2 separate regions of the Homo sapiens genome follow, and region 2 is linked to region 1. Evidence: fine-mapped expression QTL. A gene starts in region 1. The other region holds a variant in brackets. All regions are shown on one strand. Distances are between the middles of the regions. Region 1 holds the start of TREM1 (triggering receptor expressed on myeloid cells 1). Region 2 overlaps TREML4 (triggering receptor expressed on myeloid cells like 4).

Evidence for each region. PIP is the estimated chance that this variant, and not a neighbour inherited with it, causes the effect.
Region 2: its variant is the best candidate, but not a certain one, in a credible set for the expression of TREM1 in whole blood (TOPMed, PIP 0.67).

Annotation. Positions count from the first base shown.
Region 1 is chr6:41,284,624-41,290,005 of GRCh38, reverse strand. TREM1 (triggering receptor expressed on myeloid cells 1) reads left to right here and starts at 3,324. Exons shown (of 4, transcript NM_018643.5): 1 at 3,324-3,399. The coding sequence starts at 3,351. RefSeq lists a silencer at 1,250-1,339.
Region 2 is chr6:41,235,448-41,240,829 of GRCh38, reverse strand. It overlaps TREML4 (triggering receptor expressed on myeloid cells like 4), which reads right to left. Exons shown (of 6, transcript NM_198153.3): 5 at 4,213-4,344; 6 at 1,948-3,775. The coding sequence ends at 4,248. It also overlaps the pseudogene RNA5SP207. Among named protein-coding and RNA genes, the nearest start is that of TREML4, 9.8 kb to the right of the region's middle. RefSeq lists enhancers at 633-1,167, 1,168-1,704. The variant C/T (reference allele first, on the strand shown) is at 3,077.

The DNA.
Region 1 (5,382 bases):
CTCTCTGATTAACACTTCTTTACCTTGGTTTGAGTGGAGATTCTGAAACTCGCTTTGTCTTTGCTGGCTGGTTCCCTGCTGGACTCTCGATAGGGGCATTAGAGGGAGATTGGGAGGCTGGAGGAGGAAGACAGGACATGCTCACTGATTCCTATTTCATTCTCTTTCATTGTGAGTAGCCTCAGTGATGCTTTTCACGGGCAACAGTGACTGGTTCCAGTTTGCAGTTTTCCCCACTCTCAGAAGTAGTCTCATTGGGCCTCCTCAGAGATATCAGCACCAGGGTCACACTATCCTCAGAGATCTGTGTTCCAGTTCCATGTGGGCCCCTCCTCTGAGCCAGAAAAGAAGATATTTTATATGCAATCTCATTGTTAAAAAATGTTACACATATATTCTAGCTAGGTTAGATTAACCAATCTTTATTAAGGAAGAAACTGCTAATTTACCCCATAGTGAAGATCGAGACCTACTGACTTGGGGCAGTGACTTATTGAAGACAAAACAAAACAGAATAATATTGGTATTATTTCATTAATTGTATCAATGTTGAAACTGTATTGATTTCATAATAGCTCTGAAGATGAAGTTTGGCAAATATGGAAAGGTTCATGGTACCCAAAGACTAAATCTTCCTAGTGCTAGAGGCCACCCTATGAGCAAGCATGGAAATGGGACATGTGACCCAGCCTTAGTAAAATTAACAGGAACCATAGGTCACAAATGACAGTGCTCTTCTATGAGAAGCCTTAAGAAATAATATCTTGTTGGGAGCAGTAGCTTGAGAATTTAAAGAGACCCTAATAGTTAGGCAGGAATATCGTCCTGCCTATTCAGCCTGAAGAAGTTACTGATCGGGTCATTAAACTCCTCAGAAAAATAAAGTGGTAAGGATTAGAGAATGCTGCCATGTGCTGCACAAGGAAGTTTTGGTCCATGACAGACTGCATATATGGTGGAGGTCCCATAAGATTATAATGTCATAATACCGTATTGTTACTATGCCTCTTCTATGTTTAGATACACAAATACTTACTATTGTGTTACAAATGCCTACAGTATTGAGGACTGTAACATACTGTGCAGGCTTGCAGCCTAGGAATATGCTTTACTTTGATTTATGTTCAAGTATCATTCTCCCTTAGATTTTGTGAGGTTGAAAGGTATTTGTCTAAACTGGATGTGAATGGAGAGGGGGCCTCCGGAGAGCAAAGGGCCCTCTGTTCCCCTTCCTAATATTAATAGGCTATACCATACAGCCTAGGTGTACAGTAGGCTGTGCCATGTTAAGTTCGTGTAAGTGCACTCCATGATGTTCCTGCAACACAAAATCACCTAGCAACACATTTCTCAGAATGTATCTGTCATTAAGTGACACGTGACTATTTGCACTGTTGACCTCAAGTACACAAATAGATCAGACAAGTGGAGAAAGACCTCATTCTACTTCATTCTAATTTAAATGCAGGTGCTGTCCGTAGTTAGGAAAATGTGAAGGAGCAATCAGCCTCCAGTGATATTCAAGTCTAATTAAAAATTCTTCTTGGACTGTTTAGTTCAAAGCTCCCTCTTAATCTTCCAGGAGCTTAATCCTCCACACAAAGTATATGAAGACACAAAAATGTAGAAAGTATGTGAAATAGCTATTATTTAAGTGTGGAATATTAATTTTGTTGTAAGGAGGGGATTTATTCACTGAAATAAACTTTATTAATTTGACTCATCGCCACAGAAGTCACGTAGGCTCCTCTCTGAGTCAGAAAATGTCAAGAGCTTTCTGTCTATTTTTCCTCTTTAGGGACTGCTTGAGTACAGCAAAAGGAGGGGCCAGCAGATTTCAGTTCAAGCATGTTTGAAGCCTGTTTTCCGACATTATTTGTAGAACAAAAAATAAACATAGTAAAATCTCCACTACAAATGATCTCTATAAAGTGTAATAACATGATTTAAGTTTATGTATTATTTTCTATATTTTATAAATTGCTGCATTGAACAGCTTTAATAAAAAAAATTAAAGTTAGCCTTGAAAATTTTTTTGGTTGTTGTTTGTTTTAATTTACAGACATGATAGTACCTTTTAGCTGTTCCTATACTTGAGTAGCAATCAATTTGGGTGTAAAATATTAGGGTCATAATGTTCTTTATACCTCATCCCACTCTCTCATGGTATTTGTTACTCAGAGAAGAAATCTGAGTCCTGATTATTTCAATTCCTTTGAAGAAACCAAGTTATTTTTTTGTTTATTTAGCAGTAGGAATCTTTTTATTTAAATTTAAAAATTTTCACCTGGAAACTTCCTATTCTAGGTCTCACTTTGTGAATTTTTTCCTTGCCCATGTTGAACTCTCAACCTCCAATTTTAGATTTCTTCTCAGACCTGGAAAGCATATTTTTTAAGATAAAATTTTTAATCTTGCTTGTGATCCACCATTCCATTTTATGCTTTAAGGACATCTCTGATTTGTAGATTGGAATTCTGTGATTTGTCCTCCCTTAAATTTCTGAGCTCTTCTAAATGTCTTTATTCATTTCACATTTGGGAATATTTCTGAAGTGAATCCTCTCCATTATTGATTTGATTTTCACACTGTCAAATCTGTCTTTTCTTGCTTCTAGTACAAAACCTGCTGGATTTTTTCTTCTTGCTTCAGCGTCTTGAACCAAGTTTCCTTTTTAAATCTAAGTCTGTTCTTGTTGGGTGGTGGCAGTGTCCTCTCAAATTGTTTCTGGGGTCCCTACACCCCCGTGAGCTCCCAGGCCATGTCTGTGGCAATGCTGAAGGACAAATGCAGGGTGTGGCCCTCCTGGTGATGAAGAGGAGGTGCACCCCAGGTCACCAGAAGCCAAGAGAACCCACGGGGCTGAGCAGGGCAGGATGAAGCAACATGTTCTCACAAAAACCCTGAAGATGAGATACGATTGTCGCAGCCTCTCCCTATGTGGGCCTGACTCTCTTCACTACACTAAACTGGATGTGAATGGAGAGGGGGCCTCTGGAGAGCAAAGGGCCCTCTGTTCCCCTTCCTAATATGAATGCCTTACTTTGATTTACATTCAAGTATCATTCTCCCTTAGATTTTGTAAGGTTGAAAGGTAATTGTCATTATTACCACAGAAAGGAAAACTGGAGTTCAAAGAAACTTAACTGAGAAGTGAGTCTTGGTCTCTGTATTATTGTGTTGATGTCAGGAGTCAGAGCAACTGGTGATGAAACAGAACCCAAACTCAGTGACTCCCAGGAATGGCCTCATATCCTGTTGTGCAACTTTCCGAAGCCTCTAGGTCATTGTGGTGCCTTGTAGCTGTCCCGGGAGCCCTCAGCAGCAGTTGGAGCTGGTGCACAGGAAGGATGAGGAAGACCAGGCTCTGGGGGCTGCTGTGGATGCTCTTTGTCTCAGGTAAGACAAGGAAGAGGACTGAGCAGGGGAGGCGTTTGGTCCAGGATCTCGGGGAGCCCTTTTCTGTTGAAGCTTCAGAGCACAGGGCCATCCAAGATAGAGCCAACCAGTAGTTATGGCAGACCGTGCTGCTCTACCCAGAATTGGGAGAACATGCAGTGTCTGCACACAAAAGTAAAAGAAGGAGAGAGTCAGGGAAAAAAGATGTCTGTGCATGTCGATGTTGTTAGAGACATGCAAAGCCTAGTATGGGAATAATGATAGAGTAGATCTCATCATGGCATGATCTACAATAAGTTTATTTGATGTTGAAATTTTTTTCTTATATTCCATCATGATGTGTTTGATGTTGACAATCTGTTAAACCCAAAAGACAGAATTGATTTAACAAATATTTCCCAGGGGTCTACTATGGGACAGCAAATATACTACTGCTGAGGACACAGACGTGACCAGAAGAGGCTGGTGCTCATTTTGGTGGAGGTGATCATCCCAGCTCTCCATGGCACGCTGGGGTTGGAGGGCACAGTTGCTGAGGCTCAGCAGAGCCGGCGCATGCCCCAGCTCTTTCTTGTGTCTCCTCTTACGATCCGCACAGCTCACATCTGCACCCAAACCAGAAGCATGCGGGCTTTATTCACTCCTCCTCCTAATCCTTATGAATAACAGGAGGAAAGTGTCAATATGAGTTAAAAGCGAGGCTTGCCTTGGGAAGGCATGAAAAATCAGGGAGAGGTATCCTCCTGGGCTCTCTACTTTGAGCAAAGTCATGGACAACTGCCTTGAAGAGCCTGTGCTCAGACATTGCTCTGGGTCTTCTTGGAGCTGGGGTGATAATCTAGATGGGCAGAAGGGAGTTAGCTCCTCATGGACAAGTGCATTTCCTTGTGTTTGATTCATGTTTTTCTGAAGGAGAACTGGGAGATGGCAGAGGGCTGAAGGTTATGTACCTGTGTGAGAGAAAACCAGTGGTATATATTTCATTGTGCCCTGTGGGGATAGGTTAGGGGTTAACCTCAATGCTCCTTGCAACTGGATACTTATTCACACTTGGGCCAGGACTTCTCTAATCCCTATCAGACTGTGTTGGACCATGTAGCTCAGTGCTTTAGGTGGAACCAGAGTCCTTGGGTTTGAATCCTGGCTCTAGTACTTAACTATGGTGAGACTTTGGGCAAATCACTTAATCTGTCTGTGCCTCAGTTTCCTTATCTATAAAATGGGGAGAATAATGGTGTCAACTTTTTACTTTATAAAGATTAAATAAGATAGTCTTTAAAAACCCTTAGCACATAATACTTAATAGGTAGTATTTGCTACCCTTTTAATTAACATATTCAAAGGAATTCCCTTCTTGCAATTGTGCACAGACAGCTCAGCAGCCTTCATTTCTTATTGTCTCCTTCCTTCTGTGAGAGACAGGCAAGTTTGCAAACTCAGTCACCTGTAACTCCCACCTTCCCTGGGGAGCTGGCAAATAAAAGAGATTTATCTGTAACATTAACTTCAGAGGTTAGGGCTTCAGTGGTGGCAACTTGAGGATGGAGTCTGTGTGTCTTCCAAAGAGCCCAGCACAGTGCCTATGATAGAGAAGTCTCCCAGCCAGTCTGATGAGTGAGTGAACAAATGAGGGAACCAGGCTTGGTTTCAGACAACACTCAGCCTCTGGTCAACAGTCTCTTGGAGGCACATTCCTGACTGGAGTGTGTGGGAGTTGCCCAAGAGGTCTGTTTCCGAGGTTTCCCTAGAAACTGGAGTCTGCTCCCAGAAGAACTGGCTTTCAAGACTGATTTCACCTTTAAACTCCTTGTGAGTCCCTGAGTTGAGTCTTCCTAAGGTCAGGCAGATCTGTTGGCCTATCCTGGGGTGGGCATGCCAGGGGGCTCCATGAAAGGGTAAGCACTTGTCATTTTTCACCAGGCCTGCAAGGACCTAAGTGTGTGGTATTAATAACAGCAGTACTAGTGTTACCGTGACCCACAC
Region 2 (5,382 bases), 49 kb after region 1:
TGAGACGGAGTCTCGCTCTGTCACCCAGGCTGGAGTGCAGTGGCGCGATCTTGGCTCACTGCAACCTCCACCTCCCGGGTTCACTCCATTCTCCTGCCTCAGCCTCCCAAGTAGCTGGGACTAGAGGCACCCACCACCACGCCTGGCTAATTTTTTTTGCATTTTTAGTAGAGACGGGGTTTCACCATGTTAGCCAGGATGGTCTCGATCTCCTGACCTTGTGATCTGCCTGCCTCAGCCTCCCAAAGTGCTGGGATTACAAGCGTGAGCCACCGCACCCGGCCACATATGCTGTTTTCATTGTTAAATAAACTCACTGATGTGAATGGCTATCTTTGTGATATAGTATCTCTATATTTGGATGGTTTATGGCAAACTCATCAACTCTATTTACCTCTGGGGCTTCCTTAGGCAGTGAAATCTGCAGTAATTAACTGATCCTCAAAAAAAAGGGGTGGGAAGGGAATAAAAGATGAGAATACAAGAAAAATTACCAAATGCTATAAAAAGATAACAAATAGAACAAATTTCTTATAAAGAAATAAATTGAATAATCTATTACAGAGAAAGCAGAACCAGTGGGAAAACAATGATTTCAATAAGCATAGCAGATATTCTCAGAGCAATAAGGAACAATATTAGAAGCATAAAACAGAAGCAAGCAATAATGAAGAAGAAAAAATTAGAAATATTGATTAAGAAAATGATCATTGCTGAAAGAAAACTCTGAATGCAATGACTAGCAGAAGAATGAGTAGGTAAGGGAAAGAGTCAAGGAGCACTTCCTAAAGGCATTAGGAAGGAATAAAGTGATAGAAAGTGTAAGGGAAACATTAAGAGGTATGGAGGATAGAAACAAATGTCAATATCTCCTCAAAGAAGTCCTCAAAGGAGAAAAAGGAGTAAATGGAGTAGAAGAACTTCTTGAAAAAATAATACCAAGGATTTTTCCGAATTAAACAAATATGTAAGACATCAGACTGAATGTGTTCAGAGAGTTCCAAATAGAATGTATAATCAAGCTTTGGCTTCCTGCTCCCTCCCTCTTTACTCATTTTGTCGCCGCCGGGCTTCCCAACCACCTCTTGACTCTTCTCCCACTTTTCCGCTCGCCTGCGCCCCCGCGGGAGCCCGGGACCTCTTCGTGGAGGTCTGCCGCTGCAGCACCGCGGGCTGTTGGGGCAGCCAGGCGCCACTGCTGGCCTCTAGGGTCATACCACCCTGAAAGTGCCCGAGGCACGCCCCAGGCAGGGTCGGCCTGGTTAGTACTTGGATGGGATTCCGCCTGGGAATACCGGGTGATATAGGCTTTTGGCTTCCTGCTCCCTCCCTCTTTCCCCCTTTTGTCGCCGGGCTTCCCAACCACCCCCTGACTCTTTTCCCCCTCTTTCGCCCAAAAAGAAAAAAAAAAAAAAAAAAGGAAAAAATGGATAATTACCCCACATTACACCCATTATAATACAAATTTCAAAAAGAAAATTATAAAATGTTCCAGAGATAAAATTGGTCAGTAGAGATGAATAACTATCAGATTATTATCAGACATTTCCATAGCAACACTATGAAGGTAAGAAAACAATAAGAAATGTTCAAAATTTTAAAGAAAGCTACATTTTTTAGATGTTAACTTATGACACAGAATTTACCACCTGCTTGAAAATTGTGGTTAAGGGAATTATGACAATTTTGAGGCCAAGGATGTTAAGATAAAATATTTAAAAGTTATAGCTAAATGCTAAGCTCTTAGCATCTGATTAAGGAAGACTTATTTTTATTTAGTCCATTTTTATCCCACTATCAATGTTCTTTAAGTGAAGCTCAATATTTCCATACGACAAGTCAACTTTTCCCAACCTACTGCAGTTGTAAAAGTTCAATAAGAAAGAACTGGGTTCAGCCACATACGACTGAAAACCAAATAGCAGTGGCTTCAAGACACAAGTGTTTAATTTTAGGTACCATTTTAATTATGAAAATTTCCAAGCATACACAAAAGTAGAGATAATCATATATCTAGCCCCATGTAGCATCACTCAGCTACGTTTATTCTTGCCTTCCATTTTTTTTTTAATTGGCAATACCATTCCATAGGTTGTGCTGTGTACTTCACATAGACTCAGAGAAAACACATAATCGCTAGTGTCTAGATTCTTGGTTCAGGCAACACAAGCTGGCAGTATTAATTAGATGTCTGAGATCCCACAACCCAGCTGATGCCACCTGTGTATAAGTCCTAAAGGAAGTCTCACATGATTCCACAAGAGAACGTGAAGGAGGGTATTCATCACAGCATCATTTATGATATAGAAAAGTGAAGGCAAAAAAGCACATGCACCCTGGGTTCGGAATGATGCACTGTGGGATATGTACGCAATGGAATAAGCACTGAAAAGAAGTGGGCTGTGTATATGTGCCCAGCAAGGAGTAAGACAAGCATATGAAAAAGGTCTATCACAATTTCTTTTATGTAAGTGAAAACATAGTCACAGAAAAAAAAATACTGGATGTTTTACAAGAATACATTCAAATTTAAAGTTACATACCAAATGCATTAGAGTAGTTGCCTCGGAGAGGAAGGCAAGTGGACATAGGGAATGAGGATTAAAAAAATAAATAAACAAAGCAAAAGCGATGCCTCTCACAGATAGGTGATGATCATGTGGCAGGAGCTGAGATATACACGAAGAGACTTTTGTTTGATGTCCCATCCCCAAAAGAGCAAAAGAACATGGAGCTCTCTTTATGGTGGTCTTTTACAGGGCTGGCATTCAGCTGCTATGCACTGGTACCTCAAATCTGTTGCTCATGGTGGACCCCCATTCTGAGTGGTGAATCCCAGTCTCACTAGATGTTAGTTGGAAAATGACTGTACCTATTCTTGCTTCATAAATATGTGCTCCTCTTCTGTTCCCTAAAACATTTATCTTTCACCCACCATCATTTATTGTTAGTTCAACTTGATTTTCTCTTTTAGGCTGTGAATCTTCTCACATGTTAAGTAAACAGAATTTGGGCCCCAGATTATCAGATTCCATTTACGGATGAATGTTCTGGGTCCTGTTTTGGGCCACTGAGT[C/T]GCCTGCTCATGTCATTTTAACGCATCTAATTTTTTCTTTTACTTCTAGATCTTCCTCAGCTTCCAGTCTGCTGATTACAGCCTTTCTTAGTTTCAATTTTATCATTTATTTTTAAGTCATTTCTCTCTCATTTAGGATATCTGGGGTGGGACGGGAGGAAGGTGAGGGGATACAACTGCTGTCTTGCTCAGCTGCCCCTGACACATTTCAGTTCAGAGGTTGAATTTAATTAAGCACAAGAGGAAATTCATAGGACTCTAGGGCAGACCACAGGCAACAAACAGGGGAAATGTGAGGGATCCTGGAGACCTGCTGAGGTGGGGCTCAGAGAACGACAGAGTGCTGGAGAGGAGCCTGGGCACAGCTGAAGATGCTGAGCTGGGCATTGACCCGGATGCAGAAACCCCCACCCCAGGTCTTCCCAATGGCGAAAGTCAGGGCAGGGGCAGTAGATCTAAGGGGGCTCAGTGCAGGGGTGAGGGGTCACCACCGGGGAGTTCAGGGGCTGAAAGTTCTCTCCAATAGGCTTAGCGCTAGCCTTTCCTCACAAGGAGGTGGGGAGCAATACTTAGGCCAGCTCCCAATAGCTGGGCAGGGGAAGAACTGGGATTCATCCAGGATCCATGTTGTGGCTCATGCACCCAAGGGTCCTGGGACAAGGCTGTGCTGGGACAATCAGAAACCTCGTCACTGCTGTCCTGAGATGGGGCAAGAGGGGGAAAGTCATGAATGGAAGTGATGCTTTTCTGATCCTTTGTCTCACCCTGTCCCTGTTACCTGTTACTCCTCTTCCCGCCCCTCCCCCGCCTTCTCCCTGTCACCTGCTTCCTTCCCTGCCCCTTCCTGTCTCCTAAACCTTCTACCCAGGCACTCTCAGCTTTGTCCTCCTGGTCTTTTTCCTCTCAGGACAGAGACAGAGGCAGAGCCCTGGGATGGGACTCCCAGAAAGCCTCTGTCTCTTTCTAAGGTCTGTGTCTGCAGGAAGGCAGAGATTGCAAGGAAACACACTTTTAAATTGTTCCCAGCTGTCATTTTTCCTGCCTCTGTGACCTGGCTGCTTCTTCCTAGCCATCTTTCTAGGAACAGAATCTGGCCCCAGCTCCATTGCCCCCAGGTGAAATCCAGGCCCCCTCACCTGTGGCACCTGCAGATCAGGAGCACTAACAGGACTCACAACATCAGGCCCTTGGCCAGGAGGAGTCCACATAGCACCAAGACCAGGAATCTGGGGCCACCTGAGCCAAGGCAGGCAGGGGCTCTTGATTTCCTGCAGGGAAGAAGGAGAAAGGAGGATGGACTTGGGCCAGGATGTCACCACCTCCTGCGGTGTCCCTAAGCCAGGCAGGCCCCTTGTAGCTGGAGCTGTTTGCGTAAGGGCCCACCCTGAACGATGACAGAGGGGTGTGGGGCAGGAGCCACAGAGGTCTCTGGGACTGAGAGGGGACCTAGTCAGAAGGAACCTCAAAGTCTTGAACGGAGGAAAAAGCTGGCCAGGGGAAGAACAAGGGATTGGAGTTCAGGGAAGGGGAGGGATAGAGCTGGGGGAGCAGGAATTCTCCCTAACCAGGTCAGGTCGGATGGGACCATCCGACCTTAGGAATCAGAGCCCAGTGCATCTTCAAGACCAGCCAAGATATCACATCTGAGGAAATGAGGCCTAGAGACTGCACAGGACCTGACCAGACCCTTAGGAGTGGTGACAGCACAGACCTAGACCTCCTGTCTGTTGGTCCCAGGGGTCCTCCCTCATCCCCTCTGTGTAGCCCCCACTCCTGGCCTGCCTAGCTCTGATCTAGGACTACCCTGTCCCAGCAAATCTGCTTTTCTCTTGTGGCCTTGGTAACTTTCTGCCTCAGTATTACATAATATATGATAAAGTCAGTGAGCTCTTTTTATTTTCACTTTTTCATGGTTGACTTAGCTACTCATGTATCTTCCTTTTTCATATAATTTTAGAGTAAATTTTTCAAGTTCTTTACAAAAGTAAAGAAGTTGTGTTTGGGATTACATTTAAAGACTTTTTAATTTGGGAGAAATTGACATATTTACAATGTTATTGCCTCTTCCAAAGTCATGGATTGTTTCTATTTATTCAGATCACCTGTCATTTTTTAGCATTTTATACTTTTCTCCAAACAGGTCTTGGTTAAATTAATTCTTTCTAGAAACTTTATAGACTTTGTGACTGTAATGAAAACGATCTTATTTTTCTAAATGATTATTCCTCATAGAAATCTATTTGTAATGTATGTCAGTTGATTTTGTATCTGGCAGCCTTGCTAAACTCTCTTGTGAGATCTAATAG